Regions from separate parts of the Homo sapiens genome. Here region 1 is linked to region 2. Evidence: fine-mapped expression QTL. A gene starts in region 2. The other region holds a variant in brackets. All regions are shown on one strand. Distances are between the middles of the regions.

Region 1 (8,000 bases), 28 kb after region 2:
ATGCAAACAATACATCACTATATGAAGTGAAAGATTAAAATCGCCTCTCCCTGAACCCTCCACCCCAAGCCCTCTCTACTTCTCAGAAGGAACCTCTATGAGCAGCTTGGTGTGTATTTTCCCACACCTTTCTCAGTATTTGTTTCAAGTATGAATATGTATTCATATACATTCTTAAATGTGTGTATGATATAGACTACTTTTTCTATGTATGAGATTATATATATTGCTCTAAGACTTCCCTTTTTCATTTAGCATTATGTTTTATAAATCTTTCCATATTAAACCTACTTCTGGTTCACGCCTGTAATCCCAGCACTTTGGGAGGCCACGGCAGGAGAATCACTTGAACCCAGGAGTTTGAGACCAGCCTGGGCAACATAGGGACGCCTAGTCTCTACAAAAAATACAAAAATTAGCCAGATGTGGTGGCACATGCCTGTAGTTCATGTTACTTGGGAGGCTGAGATGGAAGGATTGCCTGAGCCCGGGAGGCTGAGGCTGCAGTCAGCTGTGACTCTAGCCTGGGCGACAGAGCAAGACCTTGGCTCTAACCAAAAAATAAAAATTTAAAAAAACCTACTTCTCTTCATCTTCTGCCATGGTGTCCCATATGTGACAATGATGAATAAATTTATTATAGTAGCCTTCTAGTGATGGGCATTTAGGTTGTTTCCAGTTTCTTGCTATTGCCAACAGTGCTTGTATACCTCTGTGCAAAGTATTTTTTCTATAGATTTCTTTTTGGAAAAGGCCCATATGAGCTGCCCTATTAGAGGCACAGATATAAGAGCAGTAGTATCAGTGGTGTTGAAGACCCTTGCTGCTATTTATCTTTTTTTTTTTTTTTTTTCTGAGACGGAGTTTCGCTCTTGTTGCCCAGGCTGGAGTGCAATGGTGTGATCTTGGCTCACCGCAACCTCCACCTCCCAGGTTCAAGCGATTCTCCTGCCTCAGCGTCCCGAGTAGCTGGGATTAGAGGCATGCGCCACCACGCCCGGCTAATTTTGTATTTTTAGTAGAGACGGGGTTTCTCCATGTTGGTCAGGCTAGTCTCGAACTCCCAGCCTCAGGTGATCCGCCCGCCTTGGCCTCCCAAAGTGCTGGAATTATAGGTCTGAGCCACCGCGCTGGCCTATTTATCTTCTTTATCGCACCCTTCTTCCCGCCGTCCCACTCCAGGCGATGGCAATGAGGCCATTGGTGCGCTGATCCAGAACTACATCCGGGAGATCGAGGAGCTACGGTGAGTGAGTGAGCTCCGGCAGGTGTGCGCGGGCTGGGGGCCTCGGCCAGGTGACGCCAAGGGCTGTGGCAGCTCACTCGGCCCCGTCCACTCGTTCTTCCTGTGCAGGACTAAGCTTCTAGAGAGTGAAGCCATGAACGAGTCCCTGCGCCGCAGCCTCTCACGGGCCTCGGCTAGGAGCCCCTACTCCCTGGGTGCTTCTCCAGCCGCCCCGGCCTTCGGGGGCAGCCCTGCCAGCTCCATGGAGGATGCCTCGGAGGTGATCCGCAGGGCCAAGCAGGACCTGGAGCGGCTAAAGAAGAAGGAGGTCAGGCAGCGGAGGAAGAGGTGAGTGGAGTGTCGTCCCCGCCCCTGAGAGCCCTCAGACCGCCCCAGTGGACCCTGCCCGTCCCCAAGGAGGACTGCTGCCCACCAGTGTTTAGGAGGGAACCTCCACGCCCCCAGCCCCAGGGGCTGCCTCAGTATTGCTTGGGAATTCATGGCGCAGATTTGCTCAGCCTTTTGGGCAACCTCCCTCCCCCACGTTCTCCTATGCCATCTGCTTTCCCCCAAGGAGAGGAAGGACTGAGCTGAGCCAAGGTCAGCTCTGGGTGGCCCTAGGGAAGAGCAGTGGGGTTCTCTGCAGAGTAGGAGCCAGTGCTCTCCCCGGCCTCTGGTGAGAGCCTTCCTTTTCTGCCGCTGCCGCCGTCCTGCCCATGTGCTCAGGGCAGGGGCAGCCTTCCTAATCCAGCTTCCCTGTCCTCCCTGAGCAGCCCCGAGAAGGAAGCCTTCAAAAAGAGGGCAAAACTCCAACAGGAGAACAGCGAGGAGACGGATGAGAACGAGGCGGAGGAGGTGAGGAGCACGGGCCGCCCCACCTCACCACATGCATGCCTTGTGTCCCTGCTGGGGTTGGCGGGGGCCCCATCCGCATCCTTGTATGGAGTGAAGGAGGCGGTTGGGTCTGCATCCAGTTGATCCTTGTACTTCCTTATATCTCTGACTGGTTACCATGGTGATCTCCATCCCCTAGGACCCCACCTCATCCCAAACGGATGATGCAGGTGGGGAGGCCCTCCTAGAGGGGTTCTGCGGTGGTGTTGGGGGAGGCGGCACTCTTCCAGGAGTAGGGGGTGGGCAGGGGGGCTCAGCTGTGGCCTGCCCCAATCCCCACCCTCCTGACACACCTGAGGCATTGTGTCGGGATGCACCTCTGCTTCTGGGCTCCCCTCTCTGAGGCCAGGCCCACCCCAATGGTGCCTGGTGCCCAGGAGGAGGAAGAGCGAGACGAGAGTGGCTGTGAGGAGGAGGAAGGGCGCGAGGATGAAGATGAGGACTCGGGCAGTGAAGAGAGCCTGGTGGACTCAGACTCAGACCCCGAGGAGAAGGGTGCGTGGGCCTGAGCTGTGGGCTGTGGGGGATGCAATGCCTGGCTGCCAGTGCCCAAGTGTGGGGTCGGGCCCTGCTCAAAGATAATGGTGTCCAGGCCCCAGCACTCCCAGACGTGAAACCAATGACAACAGGCAGTCATGATGAGAATGATGGCAAACACTTCCTGGTCGTTCATTAGGTGCCAGGCACTGTGCTTACCTTAACCCTTTGAGCGGCTAGGTTCTTTCAGTCTTCACTGCAACTGTATGCATAGGGGTGGTGAGCTTCCCTATATCACCACAGAGGAACAAGCTCACAGGGGTTTAGTGACCTTCCCCAGTGTGGTCCATGCAGAGCAAACATGAATGTAGGCCTGACTGGTGCCAAAGCCCTCTCCTCTAAATGGAGATGCCTGCCCCTTCAGCCCTGCCTGCTGCCAGCCCTGGCCCTAGCCCTGTAAGTTGCTCTCAGCCATCTCACCCTCCTCCACTGAAGCTGGTCCCATGTCATCTGGAACAGGTGGATGCTGGCCTCGAATGGCTGGGAAGGACGTGTAGATCCCCCCTGCCAGCTCCTGAGCCCTACCTTGCCTTTCTGGAACTGCTCTTTAAATGTGTTCCTCCTTCTGGCCGCATTCTACCTGCATTAGGATTTATCATTTTGCCCAGTCTCTGGTCACTGATTGGTCATGGCTGACCAAAGGAGGGTCCCAGCTC[C/A]CCAGCACTGGCACATCTGCTCCCCAATTTGCCCCTCGCCCTAACGCTGGGCTGAGCCTGATTGTGCCCCCATAGAGGTGAACTTCCAGGCGGACCTGGCCGACCTGACTTGTGAGATCGAAATCAAGCAGAAGCTGATCGACGAGCTGGAGAACAGCCAGCGGCGGTTGCAGACGCTCAAGCACCAGTATGAGGAAAAGCTGATTCTGCTGCAGAACAAGATCCGAGACACACAGCTGGAGCGCGACCGTGTGCTGCAGAACCTCAGTGAGGCCACCGCCATGCCCCTCCACCCCATCCGGACCCTCCCTTTTCCCTGAGCCCCTCCTCTGTCAAAAGCAGCTGGTGTGTTGGGGTTATCCTGGCCTTCTAGGCAAGGGACTTCCCAACCTTTGACTGTGGTCCTTTGACCCACAGTTAAAGGTTCTTACGTCTAACCCTAGTTCCTATGAAACATTGTAAATTGATTTTTTTTCTTTGCTATCACGTCATGTATTAGAATTCTTTATATACCTAGGCACGCGAACATGACACTCCCAGCCTTTCCTCCTGCACTCAGTTCCTTGGGTCTTTTCCTTTGGACCTGTTTGTAACCGTTCTTACATTCTATCTTCATTATGCTGCTCTTCAGCCCATTCATTCCATTTTTTATTCATTCATTGATTTACTTATTCAGCAAACACATGTTGAATATGTCTTACAGAGCAGACATTGTTCTAGTGCTAGAGATATTGGAGTGGACAGAATCCCTGCTCTCGTGCAGCATACATTCTAGTGGGGAAAGACAAACATAAACGAAAGAGCAGAAACTATAGTGTGTCAAATGGTGATAAGTATAGCCAGGAAGGGGAACAGGAACTACTGAAGAGTGAGTTGGAGTTTTGTTTTGTTTTGTTTTGAGACAAAACAAATCAAAAATCTCTCTCTGTTGTCCAGGCTGGAGTGCAGTGGCGTGATCTCGGCTAACTGCAACCTCTGACCCCCGGTTCAATCGATTCTCCTGCCTCAGCCTCCTGAGTAGCTGGGACTACAAGCGCCCGCCACCACGCCCGGCTAATTTTTGTATTTTTAGTAGAGACAGGGTTTCACTATATTGGCCAGGCTGGTCTTGAACTCCTGACCTTGTGATCCGCCTTCCTTGGCCTCCCAAAGTGCTGGGATTACAGGCATGAGCCACCGTGCCTGGCCGAATTGGAGTTTTTTAAAGGATGGTCGTGAAGACTTCACTGAGCAAAGACTTGAAGGAGTTGATAGTGCTAGAGCAGCACCAACCAGGGGAAGAGCGTCCCAGACAGAGGGAACAGGAGATGCCAAGGCCATAAGGGTGCCATGTGCCTGGCATTTTGGCAGAACGATAAGGGGACCAGGATGGTTAGAGCACAGTGAGAGGGGACAGGTCGGAGAAGAAATGTCATTGTAAGGACATTGCCTTATACTCTGAGGGAGACGGGATGTGTGGAGTTTCAAGAGAGCTACGTGATACCAAATTTAAAAGCATTTTTAAAAGACTACTCTGGCTGCTGCATGGGGGAGTGAAAGTGGAAGCTGGAGACCACTTAGGAAACTGTTCTAAAGATCCCAGGAGAGGTGGCTTAGGAGGTGGTGAGAAGTCAGATTCTGGATATGTTTTTCAGGTTGAGCCAGAAGGCTTTGTTGATTGCTTGCTGGGAGGTAGATGTGAGGGAGAGGGGAGCCAAGGATGCCTCAGGGTGTGAGCTTCTGGAAGGAGCGTGATGCTGTGTACTGAGATGGGAGAGGGGTAGAAATGAGGAGTTGGGTTTTGTACCTGTTAAGTTGGAGATGTCTGTTGGTAGTTCTGGTAGGAGAGGCCAAGAGTGGAGAATCAGCTTATTCCTTCTGCCCTGGCCCACACCATTCTGTCTTCTCTTGCAAACTCTTCCCCTTCCCACAGGCCCCAGCTCTTTCCTCCAACACTGGATCATGGGTCAGAACCCAGCCAGCATGAGTGAGTTACAGGACCCTCGTGGGAAGTTGGGGACCAGGGGTTCAGAGATCTTAAGATGAAAACACCCCTGCCCATTACAATAGGATGTCAGAGCAGGAAGGGGCCTTGGGCATCAACTAGTCTGACCCCCTCATTCAAATGATGAAACAGGCTCAGAGAGGGGTGTGACTTGCCCAAGGTCATACAATGAGACTGGAACAGAGGGTTCCTGCGTTCCCCCTTGATGACCCTGTATTTAGTGGGAGCCCTTAGGGACCCAGCACCGACAGCTGCGTCTCCTTGCTCTCAGGCACCATGGAGTGCTATACTGAGGAGAAGGCCAACAAGATCAAGGCAGACTATGAGAAGAGGCTGCGGGAGATGAACCGGGACCTGCAGAAGCTGCAGGCCGCCCAGAAAGAGCACGCCCGGCTGCTTAAGAACCAGTCGCGCTACGAGAGGGAGCTGAAGAAGCTACAGGCCGAGGTGGCTGAGATGAAGAAGGCCAAGGTAGGGGCCGAGGGTGTGAGGAGTGGGGCCTGGAGTGCCTGTGACATCTTCTTAGAATCCACTCACCATCGTAAAAATAATCATTGCTGTCAAGTGTGGATTCTCTTCTCAACACACAGCATTAACCTAGTTTGACCCTGTCTTGGCCCTTGACACGGTCCTCTTAGCTGAGTGCATCGTCCAAGGTGAAACACCCTGCCCAGTAGTGGGGCCAGTGTGCGGGGATGCTGGGGTGCACAGGGGTCGTGTTCAGGGCAGGTGAGGATTTCAGGGGACCCCACTTGGTGCTGCCTCCTGTTGGGGAGGCTGCAGCATACTCGCTTCGGGTCTGCGCAAAGTGCACATGAGGCCTCTCATTTGGTGCAACCTGGCCCTGAGTGATAATAGTAACAGTTACCATCGTTTGAACATTTACTATGGCCAGGCTCCAGGCTAGTCATCTCACACGCATGATCACATTCAGTCCTTAGAAGAACCTCTTGAAAGAAGTCTATTATTATTCTTTTATGTATGAGAAAGTGAGGCTCAGAGAAGTTAATTCCAGCTTCCAAGAGGTAGCACTGGGATTTGAACTCAGTTCTCTGGCTCCCAAGCCACTGTGTGTTCCAGGTGGCACAATGCCTCCCTTTTCTACTTTGCCACCACTCAGAGTGCTCTAGTCTCTGGGGCCTGGGGCCTGCCCCTGTGCTTCTGACTTCAGGGCTCAAGTCTTGTGTTTCCAGTGTCTGGTGTGTTCTGGCTCCTGTCTGGGGCTCAGCAGATCCATGCTCCCTTTCAGTCCTCCCTCCCCTTGGACCTTCCAAGTCCTACATTCCTGCCTGCTCTGATCCTCAGCCCTCAGTGGAGCCCAGATCCCCACAGCCCTGGGCTAGGCCCTGGGCACTGGTGGCAGCCCCAGTAAGCTGTGAAGGGCTGGCCTTGGGGACAGAGACATAGGAAAGGGGAGCTCCCCAGTGCCTGGGGCTGATGGGGCATCTAGCAGCCATTGGTAGCTACATGCTCACAGCCGACTCAATGTGCAGAGGAGAGAGGCAATGCAGTGGTGGCTGATGTAGATTCTGAGAAGAGGTGGTGGACCCATAGCTGTCATTGAGGCCCAGCCACCTCACCTGGGCAGGCTCTGTGCCCAAGCCTGGGCTGCAGGTCCGGAGGCTTCATCAACCTGACTAGAGTGGAGAAGTCCCTGCCTTGCTGTGCTCAGACCTGCTTGGCCTGGGCTGGCCCCAAGGAGCCCTGTTTGCACCATCTCCTTCAGTGCGTTCACCCTGTGGGGTGTTGAGACTCAAGTGTGGACTCAAGTACCCAGATCACCCAAGGGCCCCTGCACCCACTGATGGTTTAGAGGGAGGGGCTGGTGGGCCTTCATTATCTCTGGGGTGGAGCAGCACTCCCAACAGGGGCCTGCACATGCTGTTGCAGCTTCTGGGGTGCGCTTATGTGCGTCCCCACTCTGTCTCCCTGGGAGTTCCCAGCTGATGCCATTGCAGGGTACCCCATCGTGTCCTGGCCAGCTCACATCTCAGCTGCGGAGGCCCTGGAGAGCCTCATGAGGGAAGATCCTTGTATGGCTCTGAAGCCTGGCAAATAATGTAACGCCAAGATGCATCTGACAGAAGGCTCATGTGTAGACCTGTGTTTCAGTCTCTGGATTGCTGAGCTCCTTCAGCCACGTGCCTGGCTCTGTCCACATTGACAGTGTTCTTATGAACCCAGAGCTAGAAGCAGAGAGGAACACCCTTGGGTCATCCCAGGAGGGGCCTAGGTTTTCTGTTGGAGGGACAGAAGGTGCAGCAGCCGAGGATTCAAATCAGACACTGTGAGAGCCAGTGCCCCAGAATCCTCCCATGGCTGTTCAGCTACAGGGCCCCAGCGATTCACAGAATGGAACTGGGGTGGGGCCTGCAGCCACGGGGTCTCCCAGGGAGAGGCCACAATGCCTTCTACCTTAAACCTGCGAAGTGATGCTGGTCTCGGGTACCGTGGCATGTTTCCGCTTGTCATGTGCCTGGAATGTGCTCACCTGTTCTGAGACCTTTGCCTCTGTGGTAGCCACCATGGTGCTTGGCTACACATGCAAAGTCGGGTGGATGAGTCTTTGACCAGGAAGACATAGCACCTCCCCAGGAAGCCTTAAGCCCCTGACCCCGGAAGACACCTGACACCTTGGGTTTGCACACAGCTCCTGGGATGCTGGAGTTTTCAGGTCCACTTTTAGCCGAGGGTCTGACTTGTT
Region 2 (11,911 bases):
TGTCTTTTGTTTTGGGACAGTTTACATGTGTCTTTACCACACAAAAGGGTTAGGATGGGGGCTTACCAAGGAGGGTGGTTCTTAGGCAGTATACAGACCAAAATTGATGGGGGCTTTCTGTACCTCTTCTCATTGAGACCACCTTGAGAGGTCCCCCTCTGAGTCCCCTCTGAGCGGGGAGGCGAAAGCTGACTCAGTGATAATGTGGAGTGGTCTGCAGGTGGGGGCCCAGCCACTCTAGCACCAGCCACTGTCAGAGCTTGACTGTCTCTCCAGGAAGACCTCCCTCGCCTCTTACAGCACCCCAAATCTGATCCTCTTGTCTTAGGGTTTGACTTCCTTCAAGGCCTAGCCCCCTATCTCCTCCTTCCCCTTTTCCAGGCCAAGGGACCCTCATCACTAGAGGGTAGGAGAAAAGGGCCTCTTCCTCTACGTTCTTTTTAATTTTGGTTATGACTTAAAGTCTTTGCTCCACCCAGTCCTGGCCTGCTATTTGGATCCTCCGAGTTTAGAAGTTAAAGAGAAAAAAGGACCTTTTCCTACTTCTCCGCATCCTCACTAGATCCTAATTCCCAAATTCTCCTTAAGGCAAAGGGTCTCCTCTGTCTACGGATACAAGTGTCAGGAAATACAAGGGTTGCAGGGAGGACACAGACTAACTTTTTAAGAGTTGTTTCACCTCAGGCCAACGTGAATATCTTGGTCAAAAAGGCCTTTGAAGTGCTCCTAAAACCGCCCTGAGATTCAGCACACACACTGCCTGGAGTGCTCCATTCACTACCATCCCTTCAAACCTTCATTCCGGCTGCATTTCTGGAGAGCTGGCACTTTAGAGGTTGACCTCTCCCCACATGCTGCCTCCAAGCCCTCTCCTCTTCCCCTCGATTTTTAAAGTGTTCAATGAACATTTGCTGGCAATTTGCTCTGCAGGGTCTGGCCGAGGCAATTATCTATTAAAATCCAAGAAAATGATGCATCCTGGAGACTGAACGTCAACAGCAACCAGGCCAGGGCAGGGTGGTGGTGGTGATTTGTTAACTTCTTCGCGGGCAGGGGCGTACACAGGTGGCATCTGTCAAAGGAAGGGAATGGCTTCTCTGGGGCCTGGCTAGGACTGCTCAGAGCCTCCTCCTCATCACCAGGTCTGGGAAGGGGTTCCATCTCCTGTCTCTCATCTTCCCTTGTCCCCAGGCCTGTGGCTTCATCTCTGTTTTCCTCTTCTCTGACATCCCCAGCCTGGCCTCTTGCTGGCTCCTCTCCAGTGTCCCCCTCTTTGGTTTTATGCCACCTTTCCGTCTCTCTGTTTCTCAACTTCCCTGCCACTAGCCCCTTCTTGGGAGGTGGGACCTTCCGTGAAGCCATAGGATATGTGGGCTCAGGGATAGGTAGCCAGGACTTTAACTGACTGTCCTCATGGCCCAGGAGAAGTCACCAACCACTCTGCACCTCTGTTTGAACAAAGAAGAAGTTGGGACAAGTTACTTTTCAACAGCTTTATTGAGGTATTTAATATGATTAATGTATAATAATCTGCACATATTCAAAGTGTGTAATTTGATTAGTCTGACAAATGTATTAGCATACACCCATGGAAGCATCACCACCATCAAGACAATAAATATGCCAGGCACAATGGCTCACGCCTGTAATCCCAGCACTTTGGGAGGCTGAGGCTGACAGATTGCTTGAGCCAAGGAGTTCAAGACCAGCCTGGGCAACATGGTGAAACCGTCTCTACAAACATACAAAAATGAGTCAGGCATGGTGGTGCAGTGCACACCTGTGGTCCCAGCTACTCAGGAGTCCAAGATGGGAGGATCCCTTGAGCCCAGGGAGCTCAAGGCTGCAGTGAACCATGATCGCACCACTGTACTCCAGCCTAGGTGACAGAGCAAGACCTCGTCTCAAAAAAAAAAAAAAAAAAAGAATAAATATACCCACCACCTCAAAACATTCCTCATGCCCTCATGCCCTCCTACCCCTCCCAGTTCCCTCCCCTTGCCAGGCAACCAATGATCTGCTTTCTGACACTATAGTTTACATTTTTTAGAATTTGTATATCAGTGGAATTGTACAGCATGTGCTCTTTTTGGTCTGGCTTCTTTCACTGAGCATAATTAATTTGGGGATTCATCCATATTGTATCATGTATCAATAGTTCATTCCTTTTTATTGCTAAATAGTATCCCACCATATGATACACCACAGATTCTTAATCCATTCCCCTGTCGATGGACATTTGTTGTGTTTCCAGTTTGGGCCTATGACAAAGCTGCTGGGGTCTTTCATGGGCAAGTCTTTATGTAGACACGTGAAGCACATAATTCCTTAGGGAGCTGTGCTCACTTTCTTGGCAGCTCAGCAGCTGCCAAGACAAGATTCATCCTTTTCCGTCCCTGTAATTCAGCAGAGGACGAAACTGGCAGGCAGCATGCTTGAGTTTGAACCCTGCCCACCACTTGCAGTGTGACCTTGTGCCCCTCTTGGTGTCCTGGTTTTCTTTATGTTCCTACCTCCATGGGTTGTGTGAGCATTCCATGACTGTATGGATCTGAAGCATTTAGTGCAACGCCCAGCACAATGTTCAGAAATAGTAGCTGTTCTTATTTTGCAGGCACCTCTGAGAAGATCTATACAATCCGAAATGGGCTTCCTCTAGAATCTCCGAGCAGTTACCCTAACCCTTTGAAGTGGCTCCATTTCACAGAGGAGTTACTGAGTCCCAAAGCAAAGAGTGACTTGACAGGGTCGATCTTTGATTTGGGAGTGAATGCAGGCGTGTCCTGATACCCAACTATTTCCTAGTTGGGTGATGGGCAGAGAGGAAGTCGGAATTTTCCAATTACTTCTCAGAGTGTCTCCTAGAGAGTCCTGATAAGTAGCTCAGCACAGCCAACCAGAAGACTATGAGCCCCTAAGGGTTCATACAAAACCACACTCATTTATTCAGTCCCCCCGGCTCAGCAACCTGGAAACCCCGCAAAATCACAGTCAAATCGGGGGGAAAGAGATAAGGGTAGGGAGGCTGCCTACCCTCCTCCCCTGCCCCACAGGGCTCTAAGTAGCCCAAAAAGGGGCTCCTGTGTGTCTTAGGCAAGCAGGTCAGTCTCTGGAAGGTACTTACGCCATCTGGCATCTTTACAGACCAGGCCTCCGAACTCTGGCTCTGCCTCTTCCTAACTGTGTCAGGGTAGGCCAGGCTTGCCGTGGCAACACACAACTTGTAAGTTCAGTGGTTTAACAATAAAAGTTTATTTCTCATTTACACTCTATGAACAACATAGGTGTGAGGGTGCCAGAGTCTTAATGCTTCCACTAGAGCTGACGCACATCAGTTCCGCCACGTTTTATTGGTTAAAGTTGGTCACATGTCCACAGCTAGCATCAAAGAGTGAGAACATGCAGTCCTACCTTGTGCCAGAAGGCAGAGAGCCGGAAATATTTGGAGACAGCACTAATGACTATACACTAGCCAAGTGACCTTTGAGCTCATTTCCTCTTCTGCAAAATGGGGACGAGAACAGTATTTGCCTCATAGATTGTTGTGAGGATTAAAAGAGAAATGTTATGTAACACCCTTGGCACAGTGTGGCACATGGGTGAGGTTGAGGCCCGGGGTATTTGTGTACAATGAGGACCCAGCATGCCCAGCCTCCCTCCTCCCCTGTAAACACTGACCCTGAACCCCGAGGCCCGTCACTGAGTGGTTAGCAGAGGATGGATAATTTTCTGCAAATCTGTCTTCTCCCGCCCTCTGGATCTGACACTGACCACTTGTGCCATGCAAACTTCATTGCCATAAACTACGCCCCCACCCCCAGCCTCATTCACACTCATGTGAGACTTCTTATCCCTCACGTGACTGCTTTATGACAAATCTGCCCTTCTGTCCAGTTAGAGGATAAGAATCCATTGAAGAAGGGGTAGAGAATCCGAGGGAAATGGGAAGGAAATTAACATCTATTTTTTGCTGAGCACTGTGCTGGATGCTTGACCCACGTTACCTCATTTAAACCTCATAATAGTCCTGTAATGAAGTGAGTGTGATTATTCTCATTTTGAGATGTGGGAGCTGATGCTTGGAGTAGTTACACACAGGCCCAGGGTTACAAAGCTAGTCAGTTGCAGAGCTGGGATGTGAACCCAAAACTCGGTGACTCAGAAGACCACACTTCAGCTTCTGGGCTGTCTTTTGCTATTTCATTCAGAATTTTTTTTTTTTTTTTTTTTTTTTTGAGACAGAGTCTTGCTTTGTCCCCCAGGTTGAAGTGCAGTAGTGCGATCTCGGCTCACTGAAATCTCCACCTCCCGGGTTCAACCGATTCTCGTGCCTCAGCCTCCTGAGTAGCTGGGATTACAGGCATGTGCCGTCACATCTGGCTAATTTTTGTACTTTTTAGTAGAGATGAGGTTTTGCCATGTTGGCCAGGTTGGTCTCAAACTCCTGGCCTCAAGTGATTCACCTGCCTTAGCCTCCCAAAGTGCTGGGATTACAGGCGTGAGCCTCCACACCTGGCTTAGACCTGACTTTTATCCAGGCTATAAACTCACCAACTGCCCAACCACAGATGTTTAGCCTTTGGGTTCTATTGTGCTGCTGTGGAAACTGTCCTGCTTCTGGAGTACAGGGACTAGGCTTTTAGTCACTGCTCAGTCCCTACCTTACTATGCAACTTTGGACAAGTCCTTTTACCTCTCTGGGCCTGAGTTTCTTCACTGAAAATGAAAGGGCTGGACTAAATTTCTCAGGTTCTTTCCATATCTAGGATTTGGTAACATTGAGAATTGCCCACATCTCTTCCTGCCTTTGGCCCTAATACTGTATTAGAAAGCATCACAAAGTAGAAAGGCAGATAAAGATCCCACATTTGAAGTTATACAGAGCATTAATTAGACTCTCGTTATTATTTGAAACTAAAAATAGTTTGTTTTAAGATTGATGGCGTGTTTGTAATCCATAGCAGGTTTCTCCCTTCCTTGCTATTTATAACAACTCTGGTTTCCTCTGTAACTAAGTCTGTCTCCTCCTATAAAAGAGGAAGTCAGGCTAAGTCTGCTCCTGAGCTAAGATCTCCTGAGTCTGCACCCCAGGAGAGGCTCTCTGGAGCTCTGAGCTCCTGTTGCTGGGCAGAACTCGGCTTAGTCTCCAGGTGGGCATTGGAAGATATGGCTGGACTATATGCCAGCAGGATGGGCTATGCCTGCTCTCCCATGGAACCATGCATAGCTGCTGGGGTGTGGCTGGGTATTAGGACTGGAGGTCCAGAACGCTGTATCTTCCACTCCTACAAGTTTTGCTTAATGCTTAGAGTTTTTTTGCAAATGCCAATGCCCAGTGCTAACCTGAAGAAGATAAAAGGAAACAGGGCTCAAGTTCAGGCCACTTTTGGGAGACATTTCCAGGGCCTATAAGTATCTCTTAGGTTTTTGATTTGTTCCTATAGGGTTGTTGTTGAGAGCTGGGTGTCCTGGAAGATCTGGGCATCCCAGATGGCTGCCCCAAGTTGCTGCCGGATTATTTTAACTACAGTAGCGTGGGAGCTTCCTGCCTCAGAGAGGGCTCCCCACACCTCCCCCAGGTTCCCATCTGCCCAGACGCCCACAGCTCCTGTCAAGAGAAATGATGGAAGCCCCAAGATACCTGGGGGAAGGGCCTCAGCTCAGGACAAGAGCTGGGGCTCCAACCCCAGTCCAGTCAGAGAACTCTCAGGGCCAGCTCATGGTTGTATGCATGTGTGTGTGTTTGCCTGTTTCTGTGAGACAGTGAGGAAAGCATGGGGGTGGGGGAGATAGGCACACGGGCAGCTAATCCTGAGAAACTCTGGGGTTTGGGAAGGAGGGAAGGAAAGGAAAGCTGGAAGGGGATAGAGGTGATGGGAGAGAGGGGGATGGGTAAAAACCAAAGAGAGGAAGCAGTGGCTGTGCTGAAGCTGGACAGAAACTGAAAAGGGCAAGGCTTGTCCTAAACTTCCTCTGACCCATCTAACCTAAATCTCCCCACGCTGTGGTTTAAGCCTTTTTCCCACCTTGGTTCTCCATCTAGCCTCTGAGCAGCAGAACCCAGGGGGGATGTCTGGATGCTGGCTGCCCTGCTGCTCCCTGGTGGCCCAGGAGGGAGCTACTTCTGAGTAGCCGAAGTCCTGAGGCTCTGACATTTAGGAGACCTGAGTTTCCCGCCCGTGTGTATCCCTGCTTCCCCTGACTCAACACCCAGTGACCTGGAGGGATGCAGAGAGGGTGGGCAGCAGCTCTGGAGGCATTTCCCAGCAGTAGAACTGTGAGTCAGAAGGGTCATCTACTGTCGGAAGTCAGAGGGGACCTCCTGCAGGCAGGAAACCAGAGTTGGGCCCCAGAGAAGTCCAGAGATGAGTTGGCGGGAAAGTAGCTCTTCAGAATGCAACATTACCATCCGGGAAGGCTGAACCTGGAGTCCGCTGTGCCTAGAGGAAAAGCCTGGGCCGGCCTAGCTCCCTTCTGCCTGGACATCATCATCCCTTCCACCTTGGTGGTCATCTGGGAAGCCTGGAATAAGATATACATGTCCAAATCTGGAGTCTGTTGCTTATATGCTGGAATTCATACATGTGAGGCTCAGTTTCCCCATCTGCAAAATTTAAAAAGAATAAAAAAGCCTAGCTTACAAGGTTATAGGGAAAAAATGAGAATATGTGCATAAAATACCTTGTGTAGGTGGTCCATATGTGTTAGTCTCCTCCCCACGAATTATTTTGGTTGGAAGATGGGGAGGAATGTTGCAGGATATGACTGCAACATTCTGCTAACCTCCTGGTCCAGGAGAGGTGATCCCCTGGCCCCAGGGAGAGCTTCCTCTAGATTCAAATGCTAATAAAAGGTCCAGGATACCACCAAGACCTCTTCTCCAGCCCCCATCATGGGGGCACTGCTGGCGGTGCTCCTCCTGTTTGCCATGGGGATGAAAAGGATGTGTTGATTGGCCCTTGAAATTTGCCCTTGAAATTATCTTTGGTTTTGATTTGACCTTAATAGGTCAAGCCAAACAGGGATCTGAGCTACTGCATGAAGCAGTTATTGGCGGGGAGGGGGGTGTGAGTGGAGGAGGGAAGGGGAGGAAGATGGTACCAACAGATGCATCCTCAGACCCCAGTCCACACCCTTGCCAAAATCTCTGACATGGTTTCATCATCTGAGGGTAATGTAAGAGGCCTGGAGTCAGACTCCCCTTCCTCCCCTCCCCCAGAGATCCCCATCCACATCTGGGGCTGCAGCTGGGTCCTCCTCTTGGGCCCTTTCCAGGGGAGGGAGCTGGGTGAAGTGAGGGCAGCTGGTGAGGGGCCCTGTGAATGGCCCCAATGTTGGGAGGCAGGGGGCAGGGAAGAGGCGTCTGGGCTCAGAGGGAGGGAGATGGACTGGGAAGGGAATTGTGACTTTGCAGCACTGGTCTCCTCCTCCATCCAGGCCCAGCGTTAAAGTCTCCATGGTCCTCCTTGTCCTTTATACCCATTCCTGCAGGCAGCTGCCCTCCTTCCCTTCCCCACCCACTTCACCGCCCAGCCTCTCTACCCAGGTGCTCGGAACTGAGGGCCCCCTTTGTTCCCTCCTTTCCCCCAGGGCAGCTCAGGCCTCCCACACTGACCCTCTGGCCCCACAGCCACAACAAGCAGAGTGTGAGCCAGGCCCAGTGGGGTCATCTGTGGGTCATAAAGGTCAATGGGACAGTCGTCTAGCAGTAGGGAGGGGCTAGTCTTGGGCTAGGAGCCTGGCCAGGAATCAACTAAAACATGAGCTTTAAGATGCTGCAGGGTGGAGGTGGGGGAAATTTTAGTTAGGGGCTAGCAAGAACTCCCTTCGAGAAGGGTTGGCGAATTTACTGGAATAAATGCAGAAGGGAAGCTTTCCTGGCTCTTTTGAACTATAAACCGTCAATCGCTGTGGGATCCCCGGGAGACCAGGGTTCTTACCATGCTTACCCACGAACTCGCTCTGTAACCTTCGGTAGTTCCCCTCTTTGAATCTCAGTTTCTTCATTTATGAAATGAGGGTCCCATTGAAGCCGAGGTTCTGCTACTCCAGGAGCCGAGGTTCTAACGTGGTCTGCGTCCAGCGCCCCCACCCCTACTCCCACCCCTACCCCCACCCCCACCCTTCAATCCCGCCCCCTACCCCCAGCCACCCCGTGGCCGCGAGCCAAGAGGTCCCTTTAAAGGCGCGAGTCCCGCCCCCACTGCTCATTAGGGCTTTCGATTGGCGGCTCCTGGGCGGGGCGGGGCCCGGCCTGGGCTCGGGGCTGGCTCGGGGCGGGCTCGGGGCCGGATCGGCCCCCGCCCCCTTTGTTCGCGCTGCGGCGGGAGGTGGCTGCCGGGTGGGAGGTGTGTGCGCGTGTGCCGCGCCGTAGGGAGCGGCGGGTCGCGCCGCCGGCTGTCAGCTAGCTCCGCGCCGCCGCCCGATGGCGCGAGGAGGCGCGCGGGCCCAGCCCCGGGGGGCCGGCCGCGGGTGAGCCCCTCGGCCTGCCGCCCGCGAGCATGTCACCTCCAGCCGCCGCCGCCGCAGCCTCCGCCAGCCGCGCCCGCGCCCCCGCCTCCCGCAGCCGCAGCCGCTGCCTCGGGCATTGGCCCCCAGACCCCCGCCTCTGATCCACGCCCAGACCCTAGCTCCAGAGGGCCATGGCCGGCCAGGGGGACTGCTGCGTCAAGGTGGCCGTCAGGTAGGGACCCGGGGCGGGGAAGGGGGCGCGCGGAGAAGCCTCGGGCTTTGTCTCGCGTGGGCTTTGGGCGGGGGGCGCGAGCACCGCTTGGGCTGGAGCCTGCACTCCCGGAGGAGGGGCCGGCGTGGGACGGGATGGAGGGCGCCGCGCGCTGGCCAGTCTGCCGCAGGGGAGCGGCGACCCCGCCGACTACTGGAAGGTGGCTTTGTTTGGGTGGTAATTTTGGGCCCCTCTTGGGAGCCCTTAATGATCAGAAAATCGAATAAACAAGGAAATCCGGTATTTCACACCCAGCTCTGGCCCAGGCCGGAGCGTCTGTGCGTTTCCTCTTCGCCTCCCCACGAGGCTGCTGTCTCATACGGGGATACCAGAGAGGGAAATTTCCCCTCATCCATGCGAGTCAGCTAGTTATGTGCTCTTGGTCCAGCTAGCAAAGGCAGCACACCCACCCTGGGAGCCAGATCTGCAGACAAAGATCGGGTGCGGGGACCAACGGAAAAGCTGGGATGATGCCTTGGCCTTCTGTGGGAAGTCAATGGCTTTGGGGGAGAATCCTACCAGTCCTGTCCCAAGAGGAGATGGGCCTAGGAAGGGAGGAAGAGGTGTATCTGAGGTGCTTCTCTCTGAGAGGGCAGGAGGGTGTGATGCAGATGCCCCATCCTCAGGCACTCAGATAAAATTGAGCAGGGGAGGGTTGCCTAGACTTATCTGGGGTTCCATTCTCAACAGCTCCGGGACTTGAGCCGGCAGAAATGAGACAGGGAGAGGACATGGCTGGGTGGGTTCTATTGGGAGGGGTACACAAAGGTGCAGGAGCAGGAAATGCTGTGAAATTGAGCCATCTGTGTTCTTTGTGCTGGGTGGAGATGCTTCACACCTCACCACTTCTCCCAGTTTTTGCTTTGGGTTTTTCTCTTTGAGAGGGGTGTCTTGGCGGCAGAGTGCCAATCTGGAGCTGCTCACCAAGGTAGGGATGTGGCAAGAACATCTATCTCTGCCCCAGCCCTGTATGATGGAGGGGGCGGGGGATTGTCCAGGTCTAGGGTAGGTCTCTCAGGTCTCTAGATCCCTTGGGTCATATGTGACCCAGATTCCAGGGGTCCTAGGAGGTTGCTCCTAGACAGAGTCAGAGATGGCAATGAAAAAGCTTTCTTCTTCCTGCCCCAGGGCAGATGCCCCTTGCCACGGCCACCTGGCCAGGCCTCTGCAGCCCAAAGAGGAGCTGACACTGATCAGTGCTTGGGTGAAGGGAAGGAGATTGAGGCACCCCCACCCATGCACCCTAGGCAGCACTCAAGAATCACTTGAGCACAGCTTTCCTGGCCCTGAGCAGCCAGAGACAAAGAGGAGCCCTGCAGGTGCCTGGTGGGCTGACTGGGGCGGGGCCAGGCTGCTGCTGGGGCTGACATTGCAGCAGGATCTTGTGGAGGTCGAGGGAGGGGTGCATGGCTGGGGGGTGGGAGTGAGAAATGTAAATATGGCATCTGCAGCAGATTGGGAGAGTCCGAGAACACCATAAAAGGGAAATGAAGCTCTGGCCCCCACCCATTGTGAATGAGGGCTGGGAAGGAAGGGGCTTGGGGGTGCCCTTTCCACAGGGGGTTTCCTTTAGATTCCATCTTGCTGGAGAGAGCTAAACAAAGGCCCCCTACCTCTGTTCAGGTCTCCAGGCTGGACTGGGGCTGAAAAGATGTGGGACTCCCACCCGGGGAGCCTCATGGGATTGGCACAGTGAGGAGAAGCTGATGTTCTCTTCCCACTGCCACCTCTAGAAGCTTCCCGGGACCCTTTCTGCAGAGAAGGGATCATGCCTGCCCTCTGCACCCAGTTCAGGACCATGTGTGTCATCTCTGGTTCCCAGTCAGATTGCCCTAAGTGGGGTCTGGGTGCCCCCACGCCTTGCCTTTCAGTTGCTGATCTGGATTGGGGGTGGGGCATTTGAGCATCAGAAGTCAGGCTTTCAGGGTCTCCGGGAAGGTAAGGGCCCCGCCCACTCCTCCCCTCCCACCCCAGCATGAGCGCCCAGCCCCGGCACACGCCAGACCTCAATGGGCAGCCGGCCGTGTACAGCAGACAATGCCTGGACAGAACCCAGTTTCTAATCAGAGAGCTTAGGACTGAGCTGGGGCTGGGCTGGGCTGGGAAGGAGAGCAGATGGTACCAGTGATGGGCTGTAGGGGGAGTTTTCCTTGTTTTTAGATCCTCTTCTACCCATCCTCCCCCGCAGCACCCCCAGAAATCACTTCTCTCACCTGAAAGACTGGGTGGTGGGCTGCACTACAGTAGACCATTTATGGGAAGGGCAAGGCTTGTCCAGGGCCTAGTCCAGCCCCAGGGCTCACTACCTCCTGCCAGGTTCAGCTGTCTTTCTGACTTTCTGGAAGTCCTTTCTTGAATCCAACTGAAGTGCCTTCTGAATTTCCATGAGAATAACATAGCGAGCCTGGAGTCCAGCTCTTCAGACAGGGAAGGCCAGGAATGAGACAGGTGTGGTCTGATTGTGTGTGTGTGTGTGTGTGTGTGTGTGTGTGTGTAGAGGAGAGAGGTCCCAGGGCTATTAGACTAGGTGAGAAGTGCCAGGCCTAAGGCTCTTGGCCCTGCAATCTGTTTGGGATGAAGAGATCGAAGCTGGCTGGCTGTGAAACGCTTCAGTGAAGGCCTGGGCTCCTGGAGAGCCGGAGGAGGAAACTTTCAGGACCTGGGGCTCAGGGTAAGGGAAGAAAGTTCAGGGGTGAGCAGACCCCAAAAGCCCCACCTTGTGGCCTCCCCAGCTAGATGGAATCTGGCCCATCTGTCCCTGAACCCAGGCTAGTCGGCTTTGCACCAAGGGATTCCCAGGCTGGCCTCTCCAGCCTGCCCTGTGATCCCTTTATCCATTAATCCCCTTGTACTGTAAAGATTCTCAGCTTCCTGGGCTGGACTAGAACTGGCAGTCACCTGGGGGAGGAGGTGTGTAGCAAGGCTAGAGAGAGGTGGGGCGGAGCTGTGACCTGCCCCAGGCTGCAGAGATATAGGCCTGACAAATGGGGCGAGAAAGGGGTAGCTGTTAAGAAATGCAAGTTGGCAAAGTTGAAATTGGGGAAGGAAGCTAAGTCACATGGCAAATTTGTTTAAGACCCTTTCAAGTCCCCAGCTCTGAGCCCCCACCATGAGGGGAGACCTCAGTGTTGCCTAGCCCCCTCCCCTCTTATCTCTGCCTGGCTTCCCTAAGCTTCCTTCCTTTAGTCT

Evidence for each region. PIP is the estimated chance that this variant, and not a neighbour inherited with it, causes the effect.
Region 1: its variant is fine-mapped to the expression of KIF21B in whole blood (TOPMed, PIP above 0.99).

The regions. Positions count from the first base shown.
Region 1 is chr1:200,993,963-201,001,962 of GRCh38, reverse strand. KIF21B (kinesin family member 21B) reads left to right here. Exons shown (of 35, transcript NM_001252102.2): 10 at 1,183-1,246; 11 at 1,355-1,573; 12 at 1,999-2,080; 13 at 2,497-2,614; 14 at 3,388-3,579; 15 at 5,568-5,767. Among named protein-coding and RNA genes, the nearest start is that of KIF21B, 26 kb to the left of the region's middle. RefSeq lists an enhancer at 1,361-1,861. The variant C/A (reference allele first, on the strand shown) is at 3,313.
Region 2 is chr1:201,020,115-201,032,025 of GRCh38, reverse strand. It overlaps KIF21B (kinesin family member 21B), which reads left to right and starts at 8,312. Exons shown (of 35, transcript NM_001252102.2): 1 at 8,312-8,683. The coding sequence starts at 8,643. It overlaps LOC101929305 (a long non-coding RNA gene), which reads right to left and starts at 8,077. Exons shown (of 4, transcript NR_188464.1): 1 at 7,941-8,077; 2 at 6,407-6,522. RefSeq lists enhancers at 3,171-3,465, 9,510-10,117, 10,426-10,555 and silencers at 7,587-7,744, 8,096-8,455, 8,856-8,905, 10,786-10,935.